Linked DNA regions of Homo sapiens: all the other regions are reported to be linked to region 1. Evidence: microRNA targets listed by miRTarBase, many of them from high-throughput screens and not tested one by one. Region 1 holds a microRNA gene; each other region holds the end of a gene's coding sequence.

Region 1 (4,118 bases):
TGGGGCCTCCGGTCGTAGTAAAGCGCAGGCGGGCGGGGAGGCGGGAGCAGGAGCCCGCGGCCGGCCAGCCGAAGATGGTGGCGGCTACTCCTCCTGGTGAGTCTGCCCGCCCCTCCGGCGACGGAGGGAAACCTGTTGTGTGCGGCCCGGGTCTGGCGGGCGGGGCGGAGCGGCCCGGGGCGGACTGGCCCGGGGCAGCGTGGCGGCGGCGGCGTGGCCGGGGCGGGTCTCGGCCGTTGGCCGCCCCGGCGTGTGGCAGCCGCATCTGGCTGCCCCCTCGCTCGCCCGCGGGCCGGCGGAGGGGGGCAGGGCCGGGGCGGGAGGGTGGGAGGGGGCGGCGTGCGCGTGGCGGCCGCGCCCGGGACCCGCGCAGACCCTGCCTGGGCCGACCCGAAGGCGGGTGGGCGGACGGCGAACACAATGGCCCCTCGGGGAGAGGACGTGCGAGGCCCGTGCCTTCTCCGGGGCCCGGGGCGCGCGCGGGGCGTGGGGTCTCTGGGTAGGAAAGTTTCTCCCGAGGGCGAGAGTTAAAGCGCCTCCAGAACAAAGCGGCGGCGGCGGCGGCACATGGGGCAGGCCGCGGGCCGGGAGGGGGCGCGCCCACGAGGTACCTGCGCGCCAGCGGGCGGCGTGGCGTGGGCGGGAGCCCGCGGTTCCCCAAACTTTGTACGCGCGAGGGTGGGCGGAGGGGCGCCGAGATCGGCGCGGCCTGGGCGCCACCCCCGCTCCGCGTGGGCTTTGTTAGCCCGCGTGGGCAGCCTCGGGGCGGGGCCCGCAACTTCCCCGCCGTGGCCCTCGGAGGAGGCCGCAGTCGGCCTCAGCCGCGGCGTGGAGCCGCCTGCGCCCGGCCGCTTGCTGGGAGTGTGGCGCGGGAGGGCCAGCCCGGCTCGGCGGGAGCGGCGTCCCCGCCGCCATGTTCCTGCGGGGCGGGCTGCACGGGGGTGAGGGCGGGGGACATGGCGGCGACTGCGCGCCGCCGCCGATTGTTCCCGGCTTAGGCCTCGGGCCGCGTGCGACGGGCACCGCGGCCGCGGAGCCCCCGCCCCTCTGGGCCGGGCTCGGGGGGGCTGGGGGACACAAAGGAGGGGCGGCGCGCCCGCGTCCCCGCCGCACTCGGGCCTCGGCGCCGCCGGTCGCCGCGCGGCTGCCGCCGGGAAACGGGTTGGGGGGGTTGCCGCGTCCGGCGGGGCCTGACTCTGACCCGCCGCCCCCTGGCGGCTACGCGGAGAATCGCAGGGCCGCGCTCCCCCTTGTGCGACATGTGCTGCCGGCCCGGGCTCCATGAGCGTGGCGGGCACTTTGCAGTCTCGGGTGTTCCTGCCCGGTCTTCTGTTCCTAAACTGCAGCAAAGGGAAAAGGAACTGAAAAAGGCAGGCTCGTCGTTGCAATATCACCAAAAGAGAAAATTAACGGCATGCCATCAGGACCACAGCAGTTGGAGAAACAACTCTTTATCCCGGCTTGCAGCCACGAGGTCTTGATTGGGGGAGGGGTGGTGAAGAATAGTCTGTGGGCTGCTTTTTTTTTTTCCTTTTACTGGAGCTGTACAGTGGAGTCGGTGATTGCTGCTGATCATAATCAAGTATTTTAGGAGCTTATTTAGACATGTATCTGATAGCTAAGGATTTTTCAACTTTATTCTCTTACGTATTTTTCAACTGTAAATTATTGGGCTTTTAAATCCTGCTAGTATTGCTCGACTCTTACTCTCACAAATGGATGGAATTAATTGCTGTTAGGAGGTTGGAAAATAGCAAATATAGATTTGGACGGTGGTAGTAATTTTGAGCAAATAATGTTTTATCTTTTTTTTCCTTATTTTTCCCTATTCCAGTCATACACGTGGACCTAACTGCACCAGTAGCTTTTCTGAGAATACTTGCTGAAAAGGAAGTTTTCTGGAATGGGTAAGTGTATTCTGATTTTCTTGAACTTTTCTTAAAAACAAATTTTTCTTGCTATTAAAGTTGAATAAATAGGATTGGTTTCTTAGAGAGTAAAAGTAGGTGTTTCTTTCTTTAGACAATGTACCTTTTCTGAAAAACTAACTCATTAAGTACGGATTTGCTAATTTTAAGGTAGTAAAATTACAGTGTAAATATTCCTGTACATTTTTGGAAACTGGCTTATGCAGTTTACGAAATATAATTTTAGACCCTCTTTTAAGTTGGGTGATAAAGTAGATATAACCTGAGATGATAGATTTAAACAGGATATTTACGTTCTGCTACAATTGACTGATAACACTTGAAGTGTAGTCTGAACAGTAATTTTGTTAATCATTTCAACAAGTATTTGCTAAGTGGAAGCCAGAAGAGGAGGAAAATGTTTTGCCACGTGGATGTGAAGATTTCCTCTAAAAGGTACACATGGACTAAATTGCCTTTAAATGTTCCAAAATTAGTTCTCATTTATTTGCAGTCTCATTTTGTTTTGTTTTTTTTCTCTATGTGTCAATCCATTTGGGAGAGGCCAGCCATTGGAAGAGCCACCACTTCCAGTGCTAGTTGGATGGTTGGTTATGATTGCCTTCTGTAAAGAATTCTTAAGGCATAAATACGTGTCTAAATGGACCTCATATCTTTGAGATAATTAAACTAATTTTTTCTTCCCCATTAGGGATTATGCTGAATTTGTATGGTTTATAGTTGTTAGAGTTTGAGGTGTTAATTCTAATTATCTATTTCAAATTTAGCAGGAAAAAAGAGAACATCACCTTGTAAAACTGAAGATTGTGACCAGTCAGAATAATGTCAAAGTGCTTACAGTGCAGGTAGTGATATGTGCATCTACTGCAGTGAAGGCACTTGTAGCATTATGGTGACAGCTGCCTCGGGAAGCCAAGTTGGGCTTTAAAGTGCAGGGCCTGCTGATGTTGAGTGCTTTTTGTTCTAAGGTGCATCTAGTGCAGATAGTGAAGTAGATTAGCATCTACTGCCCTAAGTGCTCCTTCTGGCATAAGAAGTTATGTATTCATCCAATAATTCAAGCCAAGCAAGTATATAGGTGTTTTAATAGTTTTTGTTTGCAGTCCTCTGTTAGTTTTGCATAGTTGCACTACAAGAAGAATGTAGTTGTGCAAATCTATGCAAAACTGATGGTGGCCTGCTATTTCCTTCAAATGAATGATTTTTACTAATTTTGTGTACTTTTATTGTGTCGATGTAGAATCTGCCTGGTCTATCTGATGTGACAGCTTCTGTAGCACTAAAGTGCTTATAGTGCAGGTAGTGTTTAGTTATCTACTGCATTATGAGCACTTAAAGTACTGCTAGCTGTAGAACTCCAGCTTCGGCCTGTCGCCCAATCAAACTGTCCTGTTACTGAACACTGTTCTATGGTTAGTTTTGCAGGTTTGCATCCAGCTGTGTGATATTCTGCTGTGCAAATCCATGCAAAACTGACTGTGGTAGTGAAAAGTCTGTAGAAAAGTAAGGGAAACTCAAACCCCTTTCTACACAGGTTGGGATCGGTTGCAATGCTGTGTTTCTGTATGGTATTGCACTTGTCCCGGCCTGTTGAGTTTGGTGGGGATTGTGACCAGAAGATTTTGAAAATTAAATATTACTGAAGATTTCGACTTCCACTGTTAAATGTACAAGATACATGAAATATTAAAGAAAATGTGTAACTTTTTGTGTAAATACATCTTGTCTTGTTTTCATTCAAAAACATTTCACTTTTGGGGTTGCGTGTCAGATTTGGCAGTATAAATTCTGGCTATATTTTTTGTTGTTAGATTTATTTGGCTGTTAAGTATTGCGATATGACTAAACATACTGTATACCTGATGATCATCTGTAAAGTTAGAGTATATCTTTTTGCTTTCTTTGGAGTTAGTGTTATTCCAGGATATTTTACTTAATCTAAAAGTTAATTTATGTTGCTCATATATTACTCAAGTATTTAAATTTAGAGAGAATGCCGCTCTGTTTAAAGCAATGTGTAAAGATGAGTTTTTTTAAGCATGGAATTTAGGGTTGGGGTACAATTTGTTTCTATTAAGCAAGTACCAGTTTACCAATACATGAGTAACTGAAGTGTAACTGTTAAATGCTTGTATACTAGTTTTTCTTTCTGATTGTCAGTGATTTATAAGCTATAAATGACCAAGGTCC
Region 2 (4,118 bases), not on the chromosome of region 1:
AATGTATCTTGGCTTTTGTTGTGGGGAGCACAAGTGGGTCTTGCTATATTGCCCAGGATATTCTCAAACTCCTGGCTTCGCAAGCGATCCTCCTGCCTCAGCCTCCCAAAGTGCTGGGATTATAGGCATGACCCACCATGTCTGACCAGTCTTGGCATTTTATAATAAGCATAATCTATCTGAAAATGTCACTTAAAAGATCATTTTGTTTGCATATCTATTCACTAGTCCAGTTAGTAGTCCATTAAAAATTCGCATTACTTCGGGATTAATAGGTATAAAACAAGTTTTTTCTTTTCCAGGATTATATTCCATCACAACAAGATATTCTGCTTGCCAGAAGACCCACCAAAGGCATCCATGAATACGACTTTGAAATAAAAAATGTTCCTTTCAAAATGGTTGATGTAGGTGGTCAGAGATCAGAAAGGAAACGTTGGTTTGAATGTTTCGACAGTGTGACATCAATACTTTTCCTTGTTTCCTCAAGTGAATTTGACCAGGTGCTTATGGAAGATCGACTGACCAATCGCCTTACAGAGTCTCTGAACATTTTTGAAACAATCGTCAATAACCGGGTTTTCAGCAATGTCTCCATAATTCTGTTCTTAAACAAGACAGACTTGCTTGAGGAGAAGGTGCAAATTGTGAGCATCAAAGACTATTTCCTAGAATTTGAAGGGGATCCCCACTGCTTAAGAGACGTCCAAAAATTCCTGGTGGAATGTTTCCGGAACAAACGCCGGGACCAGCAACAGAAGCCCTTATACCACCACTTCACCACTGCTATCAACACGGAGAACATCCGCCTTGTTTTCCGTGACGTGAAGGATACTATTCTGCATGACAACCTCAAGCAGCTTATGCTACAGTGATGTACAAAAGACTTGCTGTTTTAATATCTTTTTGTGTTTTTGATGTTTTCTGTTTGTTTTGTTTTTTAAAATAGCAGTTTACAACCAGAATTAGAACAATCTTAATTCTACGTTTAACTTCTTGAAAATCTTAGTACTTTTTCTGCGGCCTTTGGTTTGTGGCTGAAAGCTGTTGAGTGACTCATCGCCAAGATTTGCTGTAATGCAGGCTTTGATCTGTTTCACCATGGCTTCTATTCAAGTCCAGTTAAAACCTCCCAGCTGACCTCAGACTAGGCATATTTCAGGCTTTAAATTATTCTACTTTCCAAACTGAATTCTCCTGCAGTGCCAAGTATCAAAGGTGTCCTTAAATACTTGTAGGGATGAGGTTAGGAATATTCAGTTCCAAAACAAGATATCTTCTGTCCGCCTTACATATAGCAGTGACACTTGTTGCCTAACTTTATGGTGACCTCCTATTTTGTAAGGGCTGTTAGAAGTTCTATCTAAGAAATGGCATTCTGTAGGTTTATAGAAGGTTTAGCCTTCATATTTTAATTGCTTGTATACACAACAGCTGTTTTGCTTTTAGATTTCTGTGTTTCTGAAGGTAATGTTCTTCCTGTTTTCAAGTTTACATAAGGATCTTTGGTCTGATGCTGATGAAGAGTTCACAGGTGGTATGGGAGAGCAAAAGGCAAGCTAATGCTGTTTACCGTGTTTTGGTCAAACGTAACGAGTGAAATAGAATTTGCCTTTCTCATATTTAATTATCATGTAGTTTAATGTACCATATGTGAAACATTCTGGCCATAGCAGCAACTAAAAACTGCAAGCAACTTGGTAACAGAACTTTCTAAATAAACTTAACCTGTTCCAGAATGTCATGTATTTGACTTTTAAGCCCTATCTCAGTTGGTCAGTAAAGACCAATCCTTACTGTAGGAAATCATTGTTGTATCATCACAAACATCTATCTTTTGCTGTCCTGTCCAGTCCCATCAACTCCACACTGTGCCATTTGTGGCATCGTTTTGTTTATTTGGAGTTTGCTAAGGGCAGTATTTTTCTGTCAAGACTATTCAAGAAGGCATTATTTGAGATTCCTGTTCATTCTTGGTGTGTCTCTAACAGATACAGTATGTATACATTTGTATAATTGTTGTTGTTGAAAGTCCAGCTTTTTTGAGGTATATTTTAAATGTTTTAAGGATGCTTCTAAGGATCAGTAGTAATTTTTTTAGTTCGCACCTAAAGATGATTACATTGACCTCCCCCGACTGCTTACCAAATTAAAATGTGTCCACGAAGTAGCTTTGTGATCGCAGATACATTCATAGTGAACTCATCAGAATGGCTGGTTTGCAGTACTGAAATACTATCTTCTAGGCTGTATGTAGTGCTACAATTAGAGAAACAGAAGTCCAAGGCTGGCGACAGCTTGAAAAGTCTGACAGCTTTTCTACTTTTCCTGAAAATTTTAAGACTGTGATATCTGTCATTTTACTGTATAGCTGACTGTGTACTCAGGTATTTTATTGGTCCTTGAAAGATTGGTCGTTATGGATCACCCAGCCTTTCCAAGTCAGTGGCTGTTGTTCTGTCTTGCTGTCTGATACGAGAGTGGGGCTTTTCAGTGAACTAACCAGGGATTGTTCTTGACATACCTGACTTTTCTCACATTTGAACTTCCACTATCATTGTATCCATATAACTTCTAGCATTTTCATGCCATGGTAATCCATGAGCTACACATACGTAGCCCGGCACCGTGATGCAAGTTCATGGTATCGTGCATGTTCGTGGTATCATGGTATCATTCATGCGTGTTTGAATAGTTCTACATCTAGTGCTTCTTGCCAAAAAGAATACATTGTTTAAATTCACAAAATTAGCATAATTGCAGTGCTAATGAATATCGGAATATGTGCACAGTAACATTTGGACTATTCATTGGAGAGTTTACCCATACATTTAGCAAATTGAATGGCCAAAACATTTGACTCCAGTGAGGGCTCAAGTTAGATCCCTATAGAAAGAGGACACTTCATCTTACTTAAGTCATAGTTAAGATCTGTGATACGAACCATAGATATTGCCTGACAAAGCAGAAATCACCAAGTTTCCCCCTTTTGAATTACCACCAAGAAGTGTTGAAACACCAAATAGATATCATGTTATTTTGGGCATTTGCAGTTTTCTTCCCTGCTGCATGTAATGTCTCAGAATCAACATTCTTTTAAAATCTAGACTATATTTTGAGGCAATGAATTACTTATATTCAACTTAGGCTTGTTTTGACATTCAGTAGAACTTTAAGTTCAATCTAAAGGCTTCAGTCCACATTTTTTTATACGTTGTATTTTAAAAACGTTTGAAAGGAGTCTTACACCTGTATCATGAAAACTGAATCCTTTTGAAATACCACTATATGAAGAGAGAGATGAAATTTAGTGAACAGAATTGAAAAGGTGCTCATAATTTCACTATGCAAACTTACCCCAGTCTCTAAAAAAGTAATTTAGATTTAAAGTTCTTTGATGTATTTGATTTTCTAAATCTTTATGGTTATGATTTGGAATAAAATGTGCCTAATCCTGTGTTACATTCTGTTCTTAAATCTGAATGCCTTCTCATTTAATTCTGAGGAAATATCACACAAGTGTCTTCATTGACCTTGAAGAAATGTATATACAGTTGCCTTATAAAACAACATAAATTTAGACCATAACTTTTATAGAGAAAGGGTTTTGTCAAATGTTTTCTGAAAATCTGAGTAATTCAAAGCATGCCTCTGCCCCTTTAATATTTTTAATAACCTGCATTGTTGCTGTCTGCCAAATATTAAATTGAAATCTTCATTTCAATTTTATTATCTGGAAAGGGCACTGGATTGCTCTGCAACCAAAGAAAGCAATATGGAATGAAAAAACTCATTCACTTTTGTCTTATTTTCTTTTAAGGTGTATTGGCATGTAATTTGCATAGAGAAGGTCCTCTGGTTAGTCTCTCAAATTGAGGCTGTTTAGGGAAATCCTTATTCAGTTGGTGGCAGTGGTTGGTTTAAAGTAGAAGGAAATAAGATCGCCTTAATACCAGAAATGATTAGAAGTGCTGATTTAGATTCAACAAATACCATATGTCCTTATCATTTTTTGTAAGAAGAAATTGGTTAAGTCCTAACTTTCAATGTGTACCCAAATACTTGTATTTATGCTTTTGATAAAATGTATTTTCAGCATTAATACACATCCGATTATG
Region 3 (4,118 bases), not on the chromosome of region 1:
TTTCACAAACACGTGGCAATTATCAGTGCAGATTTCTTGTTAAGGTTCCCTAGCAATGACTGTATTTCCCCAGTAGAAATGGGGTGTGTGTGCTGCTGCACATCACAGGCAGATGTGGGAGACCCTGTTTGTTTTGTGGCAGTGGGAACAGTCGCAATTTTAGAGAGGACTTATTGAGGGGCATTTGTTACTTTAAACAATTTAGTGCCATACAAAGGATTAGACAGAGCTCCTGAAGGGGGAATCTCCCTCATTTTCAGGGTGTTAACTACAGAGGAGTTGAGGGAAGGGGCCATGGAGGGAACTGACTGAGACAGGTAGAGCATCTACCGCCCAAAAGTCAAAGCAAAGACAGGGTTAGAAGGACCCAGCTGGGCATTTTCTGCTCTTGAATCTGCAGAGAGTGTCATTAGGCCAAAATTGGCATCCTCTCTCTTCTGTTTATCAGAAACCACCTTCTCATTTGTTGTCCTTCATTTTAAACAGGGCAGACCTCCTTATGCTGCTTCAGCAGAAGAAGTGGCCAAAGAACTTAAGTCAAAATCTGGGGAATCGAAGTCCTCTGCTATGTCTTCAGACGGGTCCCTGGCTGAAAACGGAGTGATGGCCGAGGAGAAGCCGGCTCCCCAGATGAACGGGAGCACGGGTGACGCCAGGGCCCCCAGCCACTCTGAAAGTGCCTTGAATAATGACTCTAAAACGTGCAATACAAATCCTCATTTAAATGCACTAAGTACAGACAGCGCTTGCCGCAGAGAAGCTGCTCTGGAGGCAGCTGTCTTAAATAAAGAAGAGTAAACTTATTTTTTATAGAGGGTGAAGGATGCTGGAAGGGTAAGGATTTAGGAATATCTGGAGAGAAAGAGAGCCTGCAGTTATGTACATTTTGTCCTTTCCGTAAGAGAAAAATGAGGACTTTGGAAATTCAGATCCCTCTTTGATATCAGAGATTTAAACAACACATTTTTAGTTTTAACCAGTTGTAGTCAAAATGCTACAATAAAACAAAAAAGAGAAAGAAAATGAAGAGCATTTGACTCCCGCACTTAAAATGAAGTACACATAAAGTTTAAACTGGTTATGACAAAAGCCTTTAGTTGTGTTTCTTGAACTATAAAGAAAACAAATTTTGGCAGTCTTTAAGTATATATAGCTTAAAATATAATTTTTAGCATTTGGCACCATATGTATGCCATTATATTTGATTTTGCATTACTGTTTCACAATGAAGCTTTCTTTAAGGCTTTGATTTTTATGATTATGAAAGAAATAAGGCACAACCACAGTTTTTCTTTCTTAAATTTCATCACTGTTGATGTGGTTCTTTTGTGTTAAAAAAAAAAAGTGCAACTATCAAAACTAAAAAATTATAGAGTAATATTGCCGTTCTGCTGATTTTAAATATACAATACATCATACATACTTTACAAGCAAGTTAAATGGAGATAAAGTTGAAATCATAGAAGATGCAAATGACCTTTCAAAATCAACACAATGTGTTCTGAAACTTTCGTGACTAATACCATGCATCTGTGATCAATGAACTATGTGGTTTTGAATCGGATGTAGACCATTAGTACTACTACTTGAGCTAAACTTCTGCATGGTTCATAATTTTTAAAGTGTGTAGTTAATATGCATGTTATCGTCCTTTCTTCCATTCTTAACAGTATGTGCCCATTTGCAAAACAAAAATGCTAATAATCAGTAATAGTCCTATAAAAGATGTTAACTCTGTTTAGTCATTGACTGATCTTGCTCTAACCTTAAAATTTTGTGATTATTGACCTCTGTTGCATTTATTCTAAAGCCCCCCAAAAATTATCTAGCCGTTTCGAATATCAACATTACCCTGGTGTATTCACTGCTGTATGCATTATTGTTCTTTGTTGCTGTTTTATGCCTTCATATTAGCAAATATGAAATTCTGTGAAAAAAAACCCTTTGATCTTAAAAAAAAAAAAACCACCCCCCCCTTCTGTAGCAGGAAACAAATTGCTTGTTCTTGAGAACTTTCCCATCAAGAATTTAGTAGAAGCAGGTATACTTCTATCATTTTGATGTTTTTGTTAATGTTTCCAAACAATGTACTTTGAAATCAGAATCACTTCTTATCGTTTTCATATACTTCTGATGCTCTTCATCACATTAGTGATCAGAAATGAGGTGTAATTCCCCAACCCCTGCCCGCAAGAGCTAAGTAGGATCTTACTGTAAGTTGAAGGGAGTTTTGCCCTAACTCATGGATTGTGCAAGAATGAACTGCTGTTGGGTTTGATTGACTGTCGATGGATTGTGGTGTGGTGTATCTGAAGGCTATTGAATGCAACTTACAATGCTTAATAAAAATCTTTATTCTTTTAGTATAAAGTATGGCGTGGCTTTTAAATTCACTTGTAAAAGCTAATTTTATAGAGGTTTAATTCAAATCGAAACAACTACTGAAAAGATCAGAAAACCAAAGTTGAAAAATATTTTACCTTTTCAAAGTAATTCCAGGTTTCCGGCTTAGAGGGACATTAATATATGATTAATTTGTTTGATAGCTCAGTTTCAAGCAACCAAGGGGATAAAAAAATTCTGTTTGATAAAGCAGACTTACAGAAGAGGTTTTTTTAAGCCCTGAGGAAGCAATAAATTTGACTCCACCACGTTTTAAAAGCTGGATGTTACAAGTATAGTCCGTTTTTCATGCCATCCTTTTGACTGAAGGCTCTTCTCTGCAGCCTGATATGAGGTCCCCGTACCCAGGTCCGCCGAGCGCCTGGAGAAAGCGCCCCGTGCTGCCCTCTAGCGGGGGATGGTGGGCTAACGGCGCCGGAGGCGGCCAGGAGAGCTGCGGCGATCCCGCTCCAGGGAGGGGCTGGCGCTCGCCCGGGGGCGCGTTTCCTTCCTGTGGAAGGGCGGGGCGGGGCCTTGCGTGGCGCTTCCCCGTCCGCCACCGCGCAGGTCCCGGTGCGCGCGCAGCCCGCGAGGCGGGGCCGTGTCAGTGAGGCCTACTCCCAGCTTTTTCCTCCCGGAGGCTGAGACTGCGCCGTTGAAGCCGGTTCTCTGTGCGGGGCCGGCGCCGGGCCCAGCAAAGACCCGAGTGCCCCGAGAGAGACCGAGCAGACCCTGGGAGCCCGAGTCCCAGCAAGGCCCGAGCCGAGCCAGTTTCTCCAACTAGCAGCCTGAGAGCGCTCTTGGTCCTGGCTGTTCAGACCCCAGACGAATTTACCCCTTCTTTTTATGGGGTGGGCCTTCAGAGTTTGAAGGAAGTGAAGCTAGCCTCGCTCACTCCAGGGCCTCTTCCCACCCTGACTCGCCGGTTCCTGACGGTGGCCCGCTGTTCCGGGGCCACGGCTGAGTCCCTCTGCGCCAGCCTCCCGGTGGCGGGCCAGCCAGCCCCTTCTCTGTGCTGTGAGAAGATGGGGGCGCCCGGACGCTCCATCTTTCAAAAACACCATTCCACTGAGGACCCTGCCTGTGACGGGAACCAGTCTAACCCACTCTGGATCGCACGTGCCTGGCAGAGGGACAGCGTTGTGGAGGAACACTTTCCAGGCCCACCAGCTTCCACCATCCATTGCTAGGCAGTACCTCTCCCACCGTGACAACCACGCGCTTTTCTTCCCTCTCTCAAGGGGCAGGCCCACGCCACTTGAGAATAGCAAACTGACAGGGAGAGCCCTCTGGCTTTAAGAGGGGAGAGGGACAGGTTTCTGAACAGTACAGTCTCAGCAGCAGGAGCGCGCGCATGTCAAGGGTCCCTCTCTGCTCCCTGACAAGCAGGTGCTCCTTCTTTCCGGTGGTTCTCATCTCTTAGTTGCAATTGCTGTAGGTGAGAGAGCAGCACAGCTTGCTTTAGGTCACTCTCAGCAGGGACTGGGCTGGAACCCAACCCTTAGCTCCAAGTTGGGTCTGTCCACCCGCTCCTGAAGCTCCAGTAGGTGCAGGCGTGGGCATTAAGGAGAGAGGAAGGGAGAGGGTGCTGGGGCTCCGGCGACCCTGTGGCTGGAACAAGGAGGCCAAGGACATCCCTCCTTGCTGGAGCCATGCTGGCCACTCCTTCCACACCACCAGAATTGCAGAGGAAGGCCCAAGGGCGATGCTGTCATGGGCCCAGGGGTCAGTGGCTG
Region 4 (4,118 bases), not on the chromosome of region 1:
AGCTGGCACTGTTGGTAGCCCCAGGCAAGCCCCGACCTGGCAAGCCGCTGCCCCCGAAGACACGTGGAGAGCAGAGGCAGAGCGCCTTCACGGAGCTGCCGAGGATGAAGGACCGGCAGGTGGATGCTCAGGCCCAGGAGAGGGAGCACGATGACCCCACAGGCCAACCTGGTGCCCCACAGCTGACCCAGAACATCCCCAGAGGCCCAGCTGGCAGCAAAGTCTTCTCTGTGTGGCCCAGCGGAGCACGAAGTGAGCAAAGAAGCGCCTTTAGCAAACCAACCAAGCGACCAGCAGAGAGGCCTGAGCTAACCTCAGTCTTCCCTGCAGGGGAATCTGCAGATGCCCTGGGGGAGCTGTCTGGACTCCTCAACACTACAGACCTCGCTTGTTGGGGTCGACTTTCAACTCCCAAGCTTTTGGTTGGTGATTTGTGGAACTTGCAAGCATTGCCACAGAATGCTCCACTCTGTAGCACTTTTCTGGGTGCCCCTACACTGTGGCTGGAGCATACCCAGGCCCAGGTGCCCCCACCCTCATCATCCTCCACCACTTCGTGGGCCCTCCTGCCACCCACCCTCACCTCCCTGGGCTTGTCCACCCAGAACTGGTGTGCAAAGTGCAACCTGTCCTTTCGCCTAACGTCCGACCTGGTCTTTCACATGCGATCCCACCACAAAAAGGAGCATGCGGGGCCTGACCCACATTCTCAGAAGCGGAGAGAAGAGGCCCTTGCCTGCCCTGTGTGCCAGGAGCACTTCCGGGAGCGCCACCACCTCTCCCGGCACATGACTTCTCACAGCTAGCAGGTGACCGCAGAATGACCTGCTGGGTGCAGCAGCCAGCCTTTGGCAGAGGGGGGCTCCCTGGGCCTGCGTTGAGGGGGCTGTCATGGTCCTTTGCAGAGCTGCTGCTTTTGGCATTCATAGATAAACAGCTCAGGCATAATTTGAAAAAGCCACACCTGCATGATGTGTTTTGAAGGAAATGAAGTCCTGAAATAAAGTGATGGGCTTTGCAAATCCAGGGTAGAGGCCCTAACAGGCACAGAGAGCAGGGGCAACTCCTGGCACACATCATGGGCTTTGGAGGCACACAAGCCTGGATTCGAATCTGGGCTCTTTCACATACTAGCTGTGACCCTGGACAAAGAGCTTTAACCTGCTGAGTCCCCATTTTCTCATCTGTGAAATGGAGATGATAACACTGTGTCTTAGGTTGGCATTCAGGTCACATGAAAGGTGTGTGGAAAGTGGCCAGCATTCTGCCTGCAGACCCTGAGCACTGAGTCAACAAGGTTTGTGATGATGTCTGTACTAGTTAGCTATTGTTATTAACAAGATCTCCATGGCAGACAAGCTAAAGCATCTGCCTAAGTCGTGAGTCTGTGGGTTGGCTCAGGTTAAGCTGAGCTTGGCTGGGCTTGGCAGCAAGTCTCAGATTTGATCAAGTCATATTCGTTTTCTTCTTCGGCTGGTGGGCTACCCAGAGCGAGCACGCTTCTCTCGTGGTCATGCCAAGAACACAGGAGGGTGAGTCTAACAAGCACACCTCAAGCCTCTGCTTGGGTCACATTGCCAATGTCCTCTCAGCCCATACAAGTGGCAGGACCAGGCCCAATATTAAGGAGTGGAAAAGTGTAGGCTGCCCTTGGTGAAGCTGTGACAAGGGAGTGACCATCCATCCCCTCCACAGGAGGGTGAGGAATTGGGACAGGTAATTCCAGCCAATACCTGGTCCATAGTTCTTCACATTGTGAGTATATGAATACGGGGAAATAGAACCCCCTCCCCACCACCTACACACATGCTGTTTTACCTTCCAAGAATAGGACATGTGCAAAAACTAGGCTTCCAGATCGTGAGGCTGGGGAGCATTCTAGGTACCATTTATTATCTACTGCGTTTCGGTCAGTAGCTGTTGTAGGTACCCGCATCAGCCCTTGTTCCTAAGGATGTGTGGAGCCCAGGCTGTACTCTTTGACATTCCACAGGTCAGTCTGCGTGAAAGCCCTTTGTGGGGAGTTTCCAAGCCAGTGTCGTTTTTGCACTGGTTTCCACCTCACTGTCAGATATTGTTCTTTTGATATGCAGTTTCCAGCCCTCCAATGAGTCCCCAGCACAGATCTCAGGCTTGTGGCTGGGAATAAGCCCAGCTGAGCAGGTGGGGATCTCAGCCAGCCTCCCAGACTGCACCTCTTCTATTGCTCTCCTCTGTCCACCGTTCCAGGCAGCAGCACTCCCACCTGGCTGCTCTGATGTCCTCGCTCCCTCCATTCCTGCCTCTCACCATGCACGCATCCATTGTCCACACACACACAACCAGATAATCTTCTGAAAGTGTAACTCAGATGATGCCTCCAACCCTGTGGCTGCCCTTCACACTTACAGGCCTAACCCCAGCAGGACCTGCCAGCTGCTTCATGAACAAGTCCCTGCCTCATGTTAATTGCAAGCACTCATTTCACTCTCCCTGTGTGCCAGGCAATAGCATAAGCACTGGAAGAATACAGATGTTATAGTGAGTCCTACAATAGCCCTGGAAGGCAAGAGCTGTTTCCTTTCCATTTCTACAATGAGTCAATTGCAGATGATGCTATAACACTTCCAGTGTTTCTGACACTTCCCTGAAGCTATACCTGCTACCTTCATGGGCCGAGCTTGCCCTTATGAGGCCCACAGGTGGCAGTGGGCAGAGGGGACCCCGCTATACCACCTCGCTGCTGTTCCACTGTCTGCTCCCGTGTTCTGACCACAGCTCTGGTGCCGTTTCTCAAGCCTGGGCTTCATTCAACATTTTCTATCTAGCTCTTCATGGTGCTGCTCCTGCTATGGTTCCACAGGGCTTCTTCTCGCAGGTCAGCTCCTTAGAGAGGTCTCCCAGATTCCCCGTAAAGCAGCCCTGCAGCCTCTGCCTCTCTCAGCCGCATCACCCTGTTGCTTCCTTCACAGCATGTCTCACCATCTGCAACCATCTTTCTGTTTGTCGTCTTGTTGATTTGCTGCCTCCACACTGTCAGCTCCTTGGGAACAGAGATTGGTTTGTTTACTGTGCATCCCTGGTGCCCAGAACAGGGCATGGCATATTGTTGGTGCATAATAAATATTGTGGAAATAATTTCTGTGTGAGAAGCTGGGTCTGAATATGTGTGCAATCTTCCTTTGGCTGTGGAGGGTTGCAGGAGGCTGCCATGCAGCTGGAAGGCTCCATGTGTACTGAGCTTCCTTCACCTACGCTGTCTCCCTGGCCAGGCAAGGGATTGAGTGAGTGGGTCCATTTCCATTCATTTATTCAGCATCCCTGGGCACTTTGAGCTGAGCCTCAAAGGCAAGTATGTGCCGGTGATTTGGTGATGCAGGCAGGGGAGCAGTGGCTGAGGAGAAAGATCAGTCCAGAGTCTGCAATTGTGTCAGGGTGTGAGGAGGAGATGGAGGGGCAGGGGTAGGAGGGCCTCACGGGAGAGCGGTTTGGACCGAGGGGACTGAGGGCTTGGCTCGGAGAGGCACTTTGGGGGTACTCTCCAGCTGCAGTGGGGAGCGTGGCCTGGAGGAGGGGGCCTGGACCCCCTGAGCTCATTGTCTTCCACATCTAGAAGAGGGAAGGGTGCTCCCTGCAGGTGCCAATAAAGCATCATCATTCCCAAAGGGACACTGGGAGGTCCCTTGCTCACTAAGACAAGACAAGGAAAGCTCAGCCTTGCTGGCCCCTTTAGGTGCTGTGTGGGGGTGTCATTTACACATGGAGAGGCTGAGCACAGAAGGCAGCTGAAGCTATGGGAGCCTCCCCGTGTGCTGTCTCAGGTGAGGCAGGAAAGGGCAACTCAAGGTCTCGGCATGAGGCCCCACACTATGCACTTGACACGCAGCAGCCAGGAGGCAGATTGTTATTAATAATTCCCACTCTGCTGCAGATGACATTAAACTCCAAGAGGTCAAGAACTTTCCTAAGACCATGGGCTCAGGAGCATCAGTGCAAGAATAAGACTCCAGGACCCCAGATTGAGCTCATGTCCTTTTTAGCCTGCCACTTGTCTGCCCAGCCCAGTGTGGTTGGATGATTCAGGAACTGGGACAGCAGCAGGTGTAGGCTCCCTGTCTCAAATTTCAATTCACACCTGC
Region 5 (4,118 bases), not on the chromosome of region 1:
TGCTAACAAATTATTGATATTCAACCCATCTATCCTATATTCCATCAGTGCAAGCATACTTTCTTGTCTGTGATGAGTATATTTTCCATGTACTCACAGTTGCCTTCCTAGTGGTTAAAAATAAGAAAATGAAAAGGGAGTCATTTAGGCCGGGCACGGTGGCTCATGCCTGTAATCCCAGCACTTTGGGAGGCTGAGGCGGGTGGATCACCTGAGGTCAGGAGTTTGAGACCGGCCTGGCCAACATGGAGAAACCCCGTCTTTACTAAAAACACAAAATTAGCTGGACGTGGTGGCTCATGCCTGTAATCCCAGCTACTTGAGAGGCTGAGGCAGGAGAATCGCTTGAACCTGGGAGGCGGAGGTTGCGGTGAGCCGAGATCGCACCATTGCACTCCAGCCTAGGCAACAAGAGTGAAACTCCGTCTCAAAAAAAACAAAAAAAAAAAAAAAGAGTAATTTAAAGAGCAAGATTAAGTGTCAAGGGAAGGAGACAGAAAAAAAAAAAGTAAATGATCACCTCAACCTCCTTGAGTAGTTGCTTCAATATAGGATTCACTCATTATCCAAGGTCTGCATGAAATTTTAGGTAAGTCATTTTATAAATTGTTCTACACTAGTATCACCTCTACATTTGAAAAATCAAGAGTTGACTTTATTGACTCTATTGAAAAGCCTCATGTTTCTAGGCAAAGTACCTTTAGCCCAAACCCTAAAATACCCCATTTGTTTCATTCTGAAAAATGCAGTCAATCCTACTACAAAGCAGGAAAATATATTTATAATAAAGTAGAGACAATAGTATTAAAAAATGAATCTCTACAGGAATAATTTACATGAACACATTTATTGTGAGTAGCTGTATGGAAAGGCAAGTCAGATATATATAGATATACATATATATATAAACACTATACAGAGTTGCAAAGTCGTCTCCCAAAACTGCAAACGAGATGTTTACAAGGAAAAGAAAGTACAAGAGTATTTACAAAGGAAGACAAAGCCAAAGCAACTCAAAGCATATCTGTGAAGCAGAAATAGCAGATGTAATTAGCTGGTGGAACTGTAAAGTTTCAGTTTTTAACGACCAAGTGACTATGCCTGATATCAAATTAAATGTAGAGGTCACACACACAAAAATATTCCATCATTGTTTTTTCTTAGCAGCATGAACTGATAGCTGGAAGGTAAGTGATAAGTTGGTAAACATATTCCACAAAGATTCTTCCAGCACAATACTGAATAAATTAATTGTCTGTAAACTAATAAATAATGAGAACAAGATTGCATTTGTTATGCAGTACCTGTGACTATGTGTACCTGTTACTATTTGTATAATACGTACTACTGTGTATGAGGTTTCTCATTCATTTATTCAGCAACTGTTACATCTGTGCTGTACCCTCTGTACCCTGTCTGCTGGCAGCTTCTGAACCTAATATGCAAATAAAGTGATACAGTATTTTCCCCCAAGTAATCTTTTTTCCCACAATTCTGAACAATTATTACTTAACTTACTTGAAAAAATAAAATGGTGACAGAAGGCTTGAAAAAAAGTTGCCTAAAGAGCGCGTTGTTATAATGAACAAAAGCCACACTGCGTTATTTGATTAGGTTGGAAAAAGAGAAGAGTCTGAAGGAACTGATAAAGTTGATGCCCTAGCAGTGACCAGTAACTGGAACAATGACTGATCTCATAGCCACGTCCTCTCCTCAGCACAATTTACAAGAGGGAAAAAAGAGCCCACCATCCCTTTGGTTGGTAGGCAAGGAAAAATAGAAGTCAACTCGGTTCTTTGGAAAAGTTAGTTTAGCAACACGTACTATAAGCTTGCTTGAAGATAGAAGTACACGTTCAAAGACATTAAAACCAAGTAGTGAAAACCTTTAGATAAATATTACACTACTTCAAAGTTGCACATTAAATGCGAAGCAAATTTCATTTTAACAGAGTTTACACACAACAGGTACATCTACAATCACATGTACACAGGTACACAAAGTGTGCATACACACGAATATGTACACACACACACTAGTGCTCACACACATACAAACACACCCAACTGTGATATGATGAGGTTTGCCAATGATGGTACAGCAAGCCAAGATTTGTGTGCCACCACGGAACAAAGCTCTAAGCAAGCTTCAAGACCTTTGTACCTATTCTCTGTGGTCACCACCTTGCTAGTGTCACGTTCTCAAAGGTCCAGGTACCTAAAATCTTAATTCAGTTTACATCAGAGGCAAGCAAAAATAGAACGGGGGGGAGCTTGCTCTGATTTTTTTTTTTAATTTGGTACATCTTATATTGGCTCAATATCCAGAAGGAAACAAGGCCTTATAAGAGGTTCTTTTTGGCTTAAGTTTTTGTCAGAATATTGATTGATAAGTAAACACTAATTTCTTGAATATGGGAAATTGATCTCTTTATAGTAGCCATGGGCATAAGAGGAAGAGTGTGCATTGGGGAAAATGGAGAAAGAATAAGAAAAAGTAGAATAGAGGTTGAAAGTGGGGAGAGGCCCAGAGAAGCAGGGAGGGGCCTTGGGAAGAGACTTTTGAAGAGCTTTGTTTCTTTTAGGAGGTAAATGTAGGTTTCACAATAAATGAAAAATAATAGGTTTGGAAATACTCAATCGATTTTCAGGCAGAACATCACAGTGTTGTATGTGAACAAATAGCTGTTTCTCAGTTCTGCCTTTAAAATGTTGGAAATGCTCAATCAAGATATTAGTTTCATTGACATATAACATGAGCAGAATGTTGCAGTTTTGCTAATGAGCAAAACTTGAAATAATCTGCCCTTTAGTCCTGCCTTTAAAATACTGGTAATGCCCCATCAAGATATCAGTTCAGTTGACATTTAATTCATTGATCAAGAAATGTTTTGTGTGTGTAATACTCGGAAAAAAGATTCCAGATCATACCTTCCTTCCAATTATGACAGCTGTTTTTTCTTTATGTGCCCTGGTTTAAAGTTTTTCAACTTCAAAATTGAATCTAAATATTTTACATTATTAAAATTGGCATTGACCAAATTTATATGTATTCTAAGTTACTTTTTTTTAAAGAGGGAAAGAGTTATGAGATGCTCACTTGTATAGTATCTGTTTCCTTTCAAAGGGACAGACTGGGGAGGAAAACCAGAAAACAAAAAACAAAGCACAGTGTAAATATTGTTAATTAGAAATCACTGGATCCATAAGCAGCAGTATGAATGATCTGCATGAATAGGATCATTCAATTGCCAGAGTCCACTTGTAGGCTTGTAGAAATTTGGGTTGCTTTCTACTCAGAAGCCTCTGAGTTTTCTTTCCTTTAGGCAGATCTGGAGTAGACGAAGATAAAATTCCATAAGCATCACTTTTCTTCTAAAATGTGTTTTTGTGGCAATATAATCACTCTAGGAAAAAGATAATAAAACAAAAGTTACTTGCAGAATTAATGTGGAGAGCTGTCACCCCCACCCTGTTTTAAAACAAAACAACACAAAACAAAACAAAATCTAACTAGAAGTTTTTGAGAGATATACAGAGGAGACTGCCTGGGCATGGACATGGTTAATCAACTCTGCTGGCTGCCTGTGAGGAATATCAGCTGGGCAAAGACACAAGGGCAGTTATTCTTCTTGCCCCCAGGCTGTCACTGACATTTCTGGTGGACAGCATCTTTGCACGTGCGTGCACTGTTCTACTTTCTTCCAGTGGAGCCCAAGAGTGAGCCAGGCATTGTGCAGAGAAACAGATTTTTTTCTTCTTCTTCTACATGTTTGACTCTGCCTTCACCAGGTTATGTGGCACAAGTCATAGGATTTAAGTACAGCATTGGTGATGGTCTCTAGACTCAATCATTGAATTTCTTCTAATAGAACAAAGTCATACCTGCAAAGGAGACTTGAAATTCCCATCTGTTTAATAAAAGAAAAAAGTTCCAGCATTATTCTCTTGGCTTTCTGCTTTTGAGTGGGTGCATAATGGGGAGTGTGGCAGGGGGTGATCAGATACATAGAAGAAGGTGCTGGACCAGAGAAGGGATAGGAATAAATGATCAGCAAATTGATTATGGGATGCCAGTGTTACCTTAAGATCAGGTCACCACAAAGTACCAAGTATTCT

The links. Region 1 holds the annotated microRNA hsa-miR-18a-3p (ACUGCCCUAAGUGCUCCUUCUGG, at 2,934-2,956, shown strand). A microRNA usually pairs through its seed, bases 2 to 8, with sites in the 3' UTR of a target mRNA and lowers its output. Matches are read on the target gene's strand: a 7mer-m8 pairs with bases 2 to 8, a 7mer-A1 pairs with bases 2 to 7 and ends in A, and an 8mer does both.
Region 2: miRTarBase lists GNA13 as a target of hsa-miR-18a-3p. Seed matches in the 3' UTR shown: 7mer-m8 at 1,913-1,919.
Region 3: miRTarBase lists FAM120A as a target of hsa-miR-18a-3p. The part of its 3' UTR that is shown has no 7-base or 8-base seed match.
Region 4: the mRNA of ZNF488 is a reported target of hsa-miR-18a-3p. Seed matches in the 3' UTR shown: 7mer-A1 at 2,690-2,696.
Region 5: miRTarBase lists IRS4 as a target of hsa-miR-18a-3p. Seed matches in the 3' UTR shown: 8mer at 2,801-2,808.

The regions. Positions count from the first base shown.
Region 1 is chr13:91,347,864-91,351,981 of GRCh38, forward strand. MIR18A (microRNA 18a) reads left to right here and starts at 2,888; the gene lies at 2,888-2,958. It overlaps MIR17HG (miR-17-92a-1 cluster host gene), which reads left to right. Exons shown (of 3, transcript NR_197388.1): 1 at 1-96; 2 at 1,835-1,907; 3 at 2,293-4,118. It overlaps MIR17 (microRNA 17), which reads left to right and starts at 2,742; the gene lies at 2,742-2,825. It overlaps MIR19A (microRNA 19a), which reads left to right and starts at 3,028; the gene lies at 3,028-3,109. It also overlaps MIR20A, MIR19B1 and MIR92A1. RefSeq lists silencers at 1-272, 323-1,312 and enhancers at 862-1,409, 1,410-1,957.
Region 2 is chr17:65,011,014-65,015,131 of GRCh38, reverse strand. GNA13 (G protein subunit alpha 13) reads left to right here. Exons shown (of 4, transcript NM_006572.6): 4 at 303-4,118. The coding sequence ends at 875. Among named protein-coding and RNA genes, the nearest start is that of GNA13, 44 kb to the left of the region's middle.
Region 3 is chr9:93,563,743-93,567,860 of GRCh38, forward strand. It overlaps FAM120A (family with sequence similarity 120 member A), which reads left to right. Exons shown (of 18, transcript NM_014612.5): 18 at 487-2,370. The coding sequence ends at 798. Among named protein-coding and RNA genes, the nearest start is that of PHF2, 11 kb to the right of the region's middle. RefSeq lists a silencer at 2,671-3,090.
Region 4 is chr10:47,364,495-47,368,612 of GRCh38, reverse strand. ZNF488 (zinc finger protein 488) reads left to right here. Exons shown (of 2, transcript NM_153034.4): 2 at 1-3,117. The coding sequence ends at 806. Among named protein-coding and RNA genes, the nearest start is that of ZNF488, 18 kb to the left of the region's middle.
Region 5 is chrX:108,719,118-108,723,235 of GRCh38, forward strand. IRS4 (insulin receptor substrate 4) reads right to left here. Exons shown (of 2, transcript NM_001379150.1): 2 at 829-3,406. The coding sequence ends at 3,402. Among named protein-coding and RNA genes, the nearest start is that of IRS4-AS1, 15 kb to the right of the region's middle.